Regions from separate parts of the Homo sapiens genome. Here region 1 is linked to region 2. The links come from fine-mapping of genetic effects on gene expression. A gene starts in region 2. The other region holds a variant in brackets. All regions are shown on one strand. Distances are between the middles of the regions. Region 1 overlaps SAMM50 (SAMM50 sorting and assembly machinery component). Region 2 holds the start of SAMM50 (SAMM50 sorting and assembly machinery component).

Region 1 (5,000 bases), 35 kb after region 2:
ATTTGGTTTTACATTTACATTATAATCCACTGGAAGAAAGGACATCAGGATGTTAGCTGTTTATTTCTGAATGGTAGAAATTAAAATATTTTCATTTTTTTCTCTTTATGTTGATCAGATGTTCTACAATGAGTATATTTAACTTTTATGTTCAGAATAAAATCAGTTATTTAAGAAGAGAGAGGAGGAGTGGTTTCTGGGAAACAAAAAACAAGGTTGTTCTCCTGCAATTTGTTCATTCTCTGTTCCCATCAGAGCTCTCGTGTTGAAAGGGATTAAGGAGATGTTGGTGTCTTTTTTTTCCTTCCTCTGGATTGTGAGGAACTGAAGTCTTTAAATGAATCAGCAGTTCATTCCTTGAAGTTAGTCTTGAAGACATCAGTATTTTCCCATTTCATGGTCTGTCATTTTGTATTAGAGGAGAGTAAGACACTGTATAAATGGTATTTTGCAACAAAGTATAAACCTTTGGGTTGTATGTTTTCTGTTGCTTTATAGTTTAAAATGGAATGGACAGGAACGTTTTTAGAAATATGCAAATACATGCTCTCAGTGGATAGGCTTACACTTTGGCAAAAGTAACCTAAATCCAAGCGGTCATGAACCGTTGAGAATTGTCTCTTCTCTGGAGACACTGAGCTGGAACCTGGTCTCGCTGTGCAGTGGGTGGCAGGCAGCCTCTGCCTTTTGATTAATCATGTGCAGCTGTCTCCACACACTGCAGAGACGCTTTCTGCATTTTGTCTCTATTGCGCTCTCGAAAATTTGGCAAAATAATGCATTTCATTTGCAGGTGGAAGTGAGTTGGTCATCTACATTTGTGGATAAAGTTATTGTCATGAGACTCATTTCTTCAAAGCATTTCACAGATACGATGAATGACAGAGTGCATTCCTTCCTCAACGACATTGGCTTTGTTTGCCTCCTCAGTTAAATCAAGGTGTGAAACAAACCAGGAGAAAAAGAAAGATTATTTAAAATGAGGCCATCAGTATCAGGAATGAGAAGAACAGCTGCTTGCAAACTCCAGCACTGTGTGGCGTTGTTTACAGGACAGAAATCTTGCTTCTGTAAGTTGTGGAAAGTTAACGTGATGTTAACCTTGTCGGACCTTGTTTTTGTTCTGCACCCCTCCTTTGCTTAGGAGACTACCTAGGTGGAGAAGCGTACTGGGCCGGCGGCCTGCACCTCTACACCCCATTACCTTTCCGGCCAGGCCAGGGTGGCTTTGGAGAACTTTTCCGAACACACTTCTTTCTCAACGCAGGAAACCTCTGCAACCTCAACTATGGTAAAACTTGCGCTATTCAAGAAACCATTGTAGTACAGTTGTTTTCATGTTTAAAAGCACAGTACACAAAGAGGTGTCTGTCTTTTTTTTTTTTTTTTGAGATGGAGTCTCGCTCTATTGCCAGGCTGGAGTGCAGTGGCGCAATCTCGGCTCACTGCAACCTCCACCTTCTGGGTTCAAGTGACTCTCTTGCCTCAGCCTCCCGAGTAGCTGGGACTACAGGCGCGTGCCATCACGCCCGGCTAATTTTTTGTATTTTTAGTAGAGACGAGATTTCACCATGTTGGCCAGGATGGTCTCGATCTCTTGACCTCGTGATCCACACCCCCCTTGGATTCCCAAAGTGCTGGGATTACAGGTGTGAGCCACCGTGCCAGGCCATGTCTGTCTTTTTAGATTACATAGTCATTAAAGTTAGAGACTGTGCCTTACTTGAAAAAAATTCTTACAACAGCTAACATAATGCCCAGCATTAAGTGGTTGGTTGAGCGAATGAAGCATACAAGAAAAATAATCATCTAATGCCCTTACGAAGAAAAATCTGTTTGTCTATTTAATAAACAAGTCATGATGGCCACAGAGCTGAGTAGGATTGGGTGCCTTCCTCAGGGAGTTCAGGTCCAGAAGAGACTCCCAGCAGATGCCTGGGTGCTAGGGGTGCCTGGAAAGCTTCCTAGAAGGCATGGAAGTCTCCAAGCTGAGACTCAGAGTGGGGCTTCCCAGGTGGTCAGGGGATGGGGAAAAGTCATTCTAAGCAGAGGGAACAGAATATGCCAGGCCCAAAGAATTGAGAAGGCGTGGCTCATTCTGGATGTGAGTAAGTGTGGCTCCAAGTCCTCTCTTGACCTGGGTCCTAATCTCACTTCATGCATCCTCCCTAATCTCTAGGCCTGGCTTTAAAAACAACTGCAGGGCCCAGCCAGGGGGAGCCAGGGCTTGTCTGGGAGAGCTGGGAGAGCTTGGAAGGACGGGCACGCACTGTTGCTCACAGGTCTTTCTCTTTTCAGGGGAGGGCCCCAAAGCTCATATTCGTAAGCTGGCTGAGTGCATCCGCTGGTCGTACGGGGCCGGGATTGTCCTCAGGCTTGGCAACATCGCTCGGTTGGAACTTAATTACTGCGTCCCCATGGGAGTACAGACAGG[C/T]GACAGGTACGTGTTGGGAATTATTTTCCACAATCACATCCCACTCTCCAGTAATTTTATTTTGTTTTGGACGTGGTTAATTTCATTAGTGGCTTTTAAGCTTGAAGATTTTAAGAGAATTAAATAGTTGCAAAATAATGAAAACACATGTATTTTCCTCCTTTGCGTTTTTCTCCATCTAGCTGGGAGGAGCAGGTGTGAAGCGTTCCCACCCCCTCCCTCAGGTGCTTTGTGCTTATTGTTCCCAGGGTAGTGGGAGCCCCTGCCAGGGTCTGGCTGGAGGAATTGACAGGTGATTTGGTTCCTGTGTGCTGAAAACAGAAGGCAGTGTTTTGAGCAGTTGACTTTGCAGGCCAGGGTCTCTAGGAAAGTTGGGGTGAGTGAAGCTTTGTTCCTGACCACAGAGGACACGATCTTGAGAACCCCTCTCTCTACAGCAGAGGAACCCACCTTCTTGGCTTTTCTTCACCCCTTATTTTATTGAGGAAAGATTCCCTAAATGTTACATGGGTGAATATGGTATAGGGCTAGTTACACAGTTATATAAACAAATTCTATTTCTTACATGCATTGTGTAAAATTTTTTTTTTTTTTGAGACAGACTCTCATTCTGTCGCCCAGGCTGGTGTGCAATAGCACGATCTTGGCTCACTGCAACCTCTGCCTCCCAGGTTCAAGAGATTCTCCTGCCTCAGCCTCCTGAGTAGTTGGGATTACAGGCATGCGTCACCACACCCGGCTAATTTTTTGTATATTTAGTAGAGACAGGGTTTCACCATGTTGGTCAGGGTGGTGTCAAACTCCTGACCTCGTGATCTGCCTGCCTCAGCCTCCCAAAGTGCTGGGATTATAGGCATGAGCCACCACGCCCGGCATTTTTTTTTTTTTTTTTTTTTGAGACTCGGTCTTTCTCTGTCACCCAGCTGGAGTACAATGGCCTGACCATGGCTCACTGCAGCCTTGACCTCCTGGGCTCAAGTGATCCCCCTGCCTCAGCCTCCCAAGTAGCTGGGACTACACACCAGGCTAATTTTTGTATTTTTTGTAGAGACAGGGTTTTACCACATTGCCCACCCAGGCTGGTCTTGAATTCCTGGGCTCAAGCCATCTGCCCGCATTGGCCTCCCAAAGTACTGGGATTACAGGTATGAGCCACCGCACCCAGCTGCGTTGTGTAAATTTTAAGAGATTCAGACGTGTTTTCATTATAGTGTATCTCGGTCAGCTCAGGCTGCCATCACAAAATACCATGGAGTATTTAAGAGTGACTTAAACAACAGATGTTCATACTCTGCCAGTTCTGGAGGTTGGAAAGTCCAAGATCAGGGTGCTGGCAGATTTGGTTGCTGTTGGGTTCTCTTCTTGGCTCGCAGATGGCAGCCTTGCCACTGTGTCCTCACTTGGAGGAGGAAGAGTGCAGGCCAGTGCCCCGATGCCTCTTCTTATGCGGCCCCTAATTCCATCACGAGGGCCCCATCTTCGTTACCTCGTCTGCACCTCAGCACCTCCCAAAGGCCTGCCTCCAGGTATCAACACCATCCTGTCAGGGTTAGGGCTTCAGCATGTGAATCTTGTGGGGACATGAATGTTCAGTCCACAACAGTGTTCATACTGTCTCTTATTTTTGTATATGCATTCACAGCACCCCAGCCTGTTTTTTCTCTTCATTTTTGTGTCTACCTTTATGTTGCCACCAAATGGTGGTGCTGTTGGAGGCTTAACCCGGTTTCAAATAGGTTGTAGTTTGTGCCAGTTGAAGGAAATGCTGTATCATTTTTACTCTCTCCGTCTTCCGCATCAGCATGTAGGGGATGGTGCTTTGTAAAGGGGAGCCGCATTCGCAAGTGTTTCTGAGCATCGCCTCTCAGGTGCAGTCTGCGTCTGTCATTCAGGTCCTTTACGGTTATTGCTTCAGCGGAATCTGCTCCTTACACTCTTGCCAGAAGGCCCTTCAGCATCTGCTCCGCGTCTGGGGACACGGCAGGGGCTGCCAGGCTGCTGCGGCTCCCTACTGATGACAGGGCCTTCAGAGATGGCGGCGGCTGCTCCCACAACCGCCAGCTCCCATTCCCCTCCACGCCTCTCCTGTTCTCCACACAAAGCCCAAGCTGGAAAGGGTGTAGTCACGCAGGCTGCATGCATGTGTGCCTGGGGGCCCAGCTACCCGGGCTTGGGGCCCAGCTTGGCCACTCTGTGTGACTGTGTGGCCCGGGGTGAGTCACAAAACCTCTCTGGGTGTCCATTTTCATGCCCAGAGGATGGACGATCATGATGGTGACTGTTGCAGTTTGGAGAACTCAGTGAGTTACTGCATGCAGAGCCCTTGGCGCACCGCCTGGCCTGGGGTTGGGAAGTGGTTATTTTTCCTGGGCTGCTCTGCTGCTGATACACCCGGCGTGGCCAGCCCCTCACACAAGGGAACAGGTTCCTGTGGGAGGTGTTGCCCCTCCCCCTCCACATCATCTCAGCTAACAGTTTGTGACAAGCCATAGATGGGATGATGCATCCTGATTTTGGAGATAATAAAGTGAAAAAGTGGGCACCTTTTTCCAGAGCGAGACTGCAT
Region 2 (5,511 bases):
TGACCTCCTGGGCTCAAGCAATCCTCCTCCTTCAGCTTCCTGAGGAGGTTTTAATTAAATAAATTAAAAGCTAATTAAAAACATTTTTTTTTTTTTTTGGTAGAGATGGGGTCTCACTGTTTTCCAGGCTGATCTTGAACTCCTGGACTCAAGCAATCCTCTTGCTTCAGCCTCTGGAGTAGCTGGGACTACAGGTGCTTGCTACTATGCCCAGCTATTTTTTTTATTTTTTATTTTTATTTTGTAGTGATGGGGTGTGTTTCCTAGGCTGATCTTGAACTCCTGGGCTCAAGCAATCCTCCTGCCTCGGCCTCCCAAAGTGCTGAGATTATAGGTATGAGCCATTGCACTCAGCCTGGATTGTATTAAGGAAACTAGCTTAGTCACTAAACTGCACTTCTACTTCTGATTGGACAAGATTGGCACTTTGTAAACCAGGTTTTCTGGGATGCTGGTTTCCTTGAAGATGTTTCTAGCTGGTATTATCATATAGGATAGGCTGAGTTATGCTGCATTAACAAGCAAAACCCAAAAGGTTTATTTCTCATTCGTGCTGTATGTCCAGCAAATGTGGCTGGGCTTCATTTTAAGTCGTCCTCACTCCCAGACCTAGCCTGTAGGTGCCCCACCATTGGGGGATCGCTGATTGCCATGGCATGGTTAGAGAAATATGGTTCTTAAAGGTTCTCATCCAGAGTGGCACATCTCTCTTCTGCTCACAATGTGTTGACCAAAGCAAGTCACATGGATGGGAGCAGGGAGATGCAATCCTCTCTTGTGCCCAAAAGAGGAGCACAAGAAATACTGTTGAATAGCATTGCCAGAGGCCACAGAAAAATCTCCAAAACCAAAAATCTCTATGACCCAATAAATTCAAGAAATACTGGGTTAAAGAGAAGGAAACCAGTATATGCACTGTGAGACTTCTCAGTCTTTATTATATACATTGTAACCATCACAGACAGCCTTTAATATATACATCTTAACTATCACAGACAGCCTTCAGTATATTATATACATTATAACCATCACAGACAGCCTTCAATATATTATATACATTATAACCATCACAGACAGCCTTTAATATATACATTATAACTATCACAGCCTTTAATATATTATGTACATTGTAACTATCACAGCCTTTAATATATTATATACATTGTAACTACCACCGCCTTTAATATAGTATACCCATTGTAACTATCACAGCCTTTAATATACACATTGTTAACTACCACAGACAGCCTTTAATATATTATATACATTGTAACTATCACAGATAGCCTTTAATATATACATTGTAACTATCGCAGACAGCCCTTTGTTTGAGGGTAAAGCATGTGACTTTGTTTTCCTCCTGTTCCCTCTGCCATCCTCCAGGGCCTCACACACAATAGGCTCTCAAATATTGCAACCATCTTGCACTCTGCAGGGCAACCTCATGGCTTATCCTTTACAAGTGGCATACTCAGAAGAATAACGAGGAAGAAAGTGTAAGAAAAGAGGGCTGTTTGGGCAAAGAAAATCTGGTTGATTCGATGTTTACAGAGTGCCAGGCCCCATGCTTGATCTCATGAGGTCCTCAGACCTTATGCCTTAGGCTATCATTTCCATTTTACAGATAAGGAATTGAGGCTCAGGGAACTGAGAGTGAGGGAAGGGCAGGGGCCTGGCTGGTGCTGGGTTCTGTCTCTTTCCAGGCAAGAAGGGACATGTGGACTTGAATATTTAGCTCAGGGATGTTGGAGGCCTAGGGTGCTGCTATTTAAATGGAAAGGGTGTCAGGGTTTCTGGGAGGGAGTAAGGGGACAGAAGAAAAGATGCTTCTGTTATCAGAAGGGAGTGGCAACGTGACAGGATACTGAAGCTTCCTCTTTTCTTATTCTGTCTCGTTTCTTTCAATATACTTATCACAATGTGTGGCTGATATTTATTATGCCTTTTTCTTTTCTATTCTCTTTTCTTTTTTGGGGCAGGGGAGCTGTTTTGCCACCAAAACCTAAGCCCATGGCCGTCTTCTTCACCGATATGACTGGTTCTCATGCAAGCACCTAGATGGCCCTCGCCCATAATTACTGGCTGCAGTTGAGTGAATAGCGGTCATTATCTAGCGCCCACCGTGTGCCCGGCCCGGTGCCGGGAGCTTTGCTTTCCGTCTCTCACATTAGGCCCTTTTAATCCAACCCCCAAGAAGGAGACACGACCATCGTCTTCATTTTGACGATTTTGAGTGGGGGTTCCAATGACTTGAACGAAAGGAGCCAGGGCACCAATCCGGGTTTGTGTAGCAGATGCCGGTGAGACCCGACTACTGCAGCTCGGGGGTGGCCGGACCCGGGGTCTCCCCGCTGAGTCTCGGGGCTTCACCGGCGCGTGGGCACAAGCACAGCACCCTCGGGTCGGGGGTGCTAGGAGGGCTAAGAGCAGCAGGACTTGAGTGACACCCAACAGCTGGTCTGATCTCTTTCAGGCGCCAACGCCAGACGCCAGCCTCCCAGCGGACCCTCTCGCAGACCCACCTTCACCCCACGCGCCCTCCCCACACAGTCCACGCGCCAGCAGCTTCGCGGATGTCAGTGAACGCTCTTCGCTTGCGCAGTCAGAACGTCCTCCGCGGCCGTGTGAACATCCGGGTCACAGGCGCATAAGGACCAATGAGCGAAGGCATCGCGAGCCAGGGGGCGCGGAGAAGGCGGGGAATCATGGCCGCCCCCAGTGTTCCGCGTCCGGGGGTTTGTGGGAGTTGCCTTGACCTGCAGCTCCGCCACCGCGGACCCGCCTTCTGCCCTCAGCAGCAGACGCTCTGTCCCGCCCGGGCAGCTCTGCGAGGCAGCGGCTGGAGAGGGAACCATGGGGACTGTGCACGCCCGGGTAAGAGGCCCAGCGACCCGCGGGCTGCGAGGCCTCTGGGCCAGCAGGGCAGACGGGCGCCGCGGGGAGACGCTCTCGTGGCTGCGCCCAGGGTTCACCGGGAGAGAGGGTGCCAAGGGTGCCGGGCTGGGTGGAGGAGGCCGAAAAGAGGTCGCCTCGGGCCAGCGAGTCTTGCAGACCTTCGAGCAGGAACCTGATAGGAGGGACGAGACTTGGCTAAAGGTCACTCGGCGAGTCCGTGGCCCAAAGGACTTGCCAACTTTCTGTGATGTCTTAGACCGCAGTGAATGTGCTCTTTCTTTGCATGATTTTAAGTTTTCTCTCTTTACTGGTCACTTCCAGCCTTTCCCCGCTCAGCCGCTGCTGGAGCCATTGTAGGCTCCTAGAGCAACAAGAATCCTTTGAAGTCTTCTAACTCAAACCTATCTAGGGGTCCTCTTTTCTCCTGTCTACCGTGCAAAAGACGGAACCGCTCTCTGCCTTACTTCCTGTTTTAAAGTGGAGGTAGTAATAGTACCTACCTCGCCTGGCTTAAAAGAGAATTAAAAGACAATGCATGTGAATACTTGGGTGCCTGGCGCCTGACTAACTGTACTGGTTGCCAAACTCCTCTCGTTTATCCTAATCTTAAATAAGGGCCAGATAATGAGTTACTTCTCCAAGGTCACATAGTTACTGGTTCCAAATGGCCTAAAACCTCAGATTTCCTGAGTCTCAGCCCCAACACTACTTTTCTACTGCAACTTTGATTGCTTCACTTGACCTGCATAGACGTTTTCAGTAGTTCCCCATTAACTTCCAAAAAAATTTAGCACAGAAGTCGCAGCCTGACATCGATAATTGGACTTAACTTCCCTTTATATGTCTTTCATTCAGATCAAACACCGTTTCTCTTCTGACATCTCTTTGTGTAACTGTAATAGGTCTGTTGCTCAGTGTGCTCGATAAGTCAATACACTCAGACAGTGGGTTGCAGCAGAGAAAGAGTTTCAGTTGCAGGGCCGCTGAACGAGGAGATGGGAAAAGAGAGGAAACCTCAAATCCATCTCCTTCAGGAGTTTGGACCTCATGTTTTTGCTGAAGTGTGGAGATCCTTGATTGGTGGAAGAGTGAAGGGTGAAGTTATGGGACAGGGAGATGAGGAAACTTCTCATGCTGATTCCGTTCCTCTGTTGCGGGGAGGAGTCTTCAAACTGGTTGGCAGCATCAGTTTTGCTGGAATTCGAGATCTGAAAAACATCTAAAGCAACTCTTAAGCAAAAGCCTTATGATTCTAATTTTAGAAATCCTATCTGTAAAATCAATGGGGATGCAAATAGTATCTGTGACTTTTGGTTACTAGCAAGTAGGTCAGAGTGCAACCTGAGCTCTTCCTGCCATCTTGGCTCCTGTGGCGGCCTGCCGGGAGCAGGACTTCTGAAAGGAAATATGTCTGGAAGGCTGTGGTCCAAGGCCATTTTTGCTGGCTATAAGTGGAGTCTCCGGAACCAAAGGGAGCACACAGCTCTTCTTAAAATTGAAGGTGTTTATGCCCGAGATGAAACAGAATTCTATTTGGGCTCATGTATACAAAGCAAAGAACAACATAGTGACTCCTGGCGGCAAATCAAACAAAGCCAGAGTAATCTGGGGAAAGGTAACTCGGGCCCACAGAAACAATGGCATGATTCGTGCCAAATTCTGAAGCAATCTTCCTGCTAAGGCTGTTGGACACAGAATCCGAGTAATGCTGTACCCCTCAAGGATTTAAACTAATGAAAAGTCAATAAATCAATGTGGATTTGTGCTCTTGAAAAAAAAAAGGCAACTTGATTAATGGTTAATTGTAACTACATTTCTTTTGAGATGGAGTCTCACTGTGTTGCCCAGGCTGGAGTGCAATGGTGCAATCTCCACTCACTGCAACCTCCGCCTCCCAGGTTCAAGCGATTCTCCTGCCTCAGCCTCCCATGTAGCTGGGATTATAGGCGCACGCCACCACACCCAGCCAATTTTTGTATTTTTAGTAGAGACGGGGGTTTCATCATGTTGGCCAGGCTGGTCTTGAACTCCTGACCTCAAGTGATCATCCCGCCTCGGCCTCCCAAAGTGCTGAGATTACAGGTGTGAGCCACTGCGCCCAGCCAATTATAACTACATTTCTGTCCAGATGTCCAGAATAATTTTTTTTGTTGTTGTTGAGACAGAGTCTTGCTCTGTGCCCAGGCTGGAGTGCAGTGGCACGGTCTTGGCTCACTGCAAGCTCCACCTCCCAGATTCACACCATTCTCCTGCTTCAGCCTCCTGAATAGCTGGGACCACAGGCGCCTGCCACCATGTTCGGCTAATTTTTTGTATTAGTAGAGACGGGGTTTCACTGTTAGCTAGGATGGTCTCGATCTCCTGACCTTGTGATCCGCCTGCCTCGGCCTTCCAAAGTGCTGAGATTACAGGCATGAGTCACCACGCCTGGCCTTTGTCCAGAATTCTTGTTAGCCCTGTGAGGATGGCTTTATTTGGACCGCACTATTGCACTTCATTCCCCCTCCCATCATCCATCTTTAGCATCAAAATATTCCCATCTTTTAGAACTCCGTTCTGAAAGTTCTTTATCCCCTGCATTTGGATGGGCTTCGCCTTTCCGTGCCATTTCCTTTG

Evidence for each region. PIP is the estimated chance that this variant, and not a neighbour inherited with it, causes the effect. A credible set is the group of variants that fine-mapping cannot tell apart.
Region 1: its variant is the best candidate, but not a certain one, in a credible set for the expression of SAMM50 in blood mononuclear cells (TOPMed, PIP 0.79).

Annotation. Positions count from the first base shown.
Region 1 is chr22:43,987,967-43,992,966 of GRCh38, forward strand. SAMM50 (SAMM50 sorting and assembly machinery component) reads left to right here. Exons shown (of 15, transcript NM_015380.5): 13 at 1,145-1,291; 14 at 2,299-2,440. Among named protein-coding and RNA genes, the nearest start is that of PARVB, 34 kb to the right of the region's middle. The variant C/T (reference allele first, on the strand shown) is at 2,435.
Region 2 is chr22:43,952,725-43,958,235 of GRCh38, forward strand. It overlaps SAMM50 (SAMM50 sorting and assembly machinery component), which reads left to right and starts at 2,718. Exons shown (of 15, transcript NM_015380.5): 1 at 2,718-2,874. The coding sequence starts at 2,854. It also overlaps the pseudogene RPL35AP36. RefSeq lists enhancers at 1,943-2,695, 2,363-2,412, 2,493-2,572, 2,696-3,447, 3,253-3,462 and a silencer at 2,536-2,810.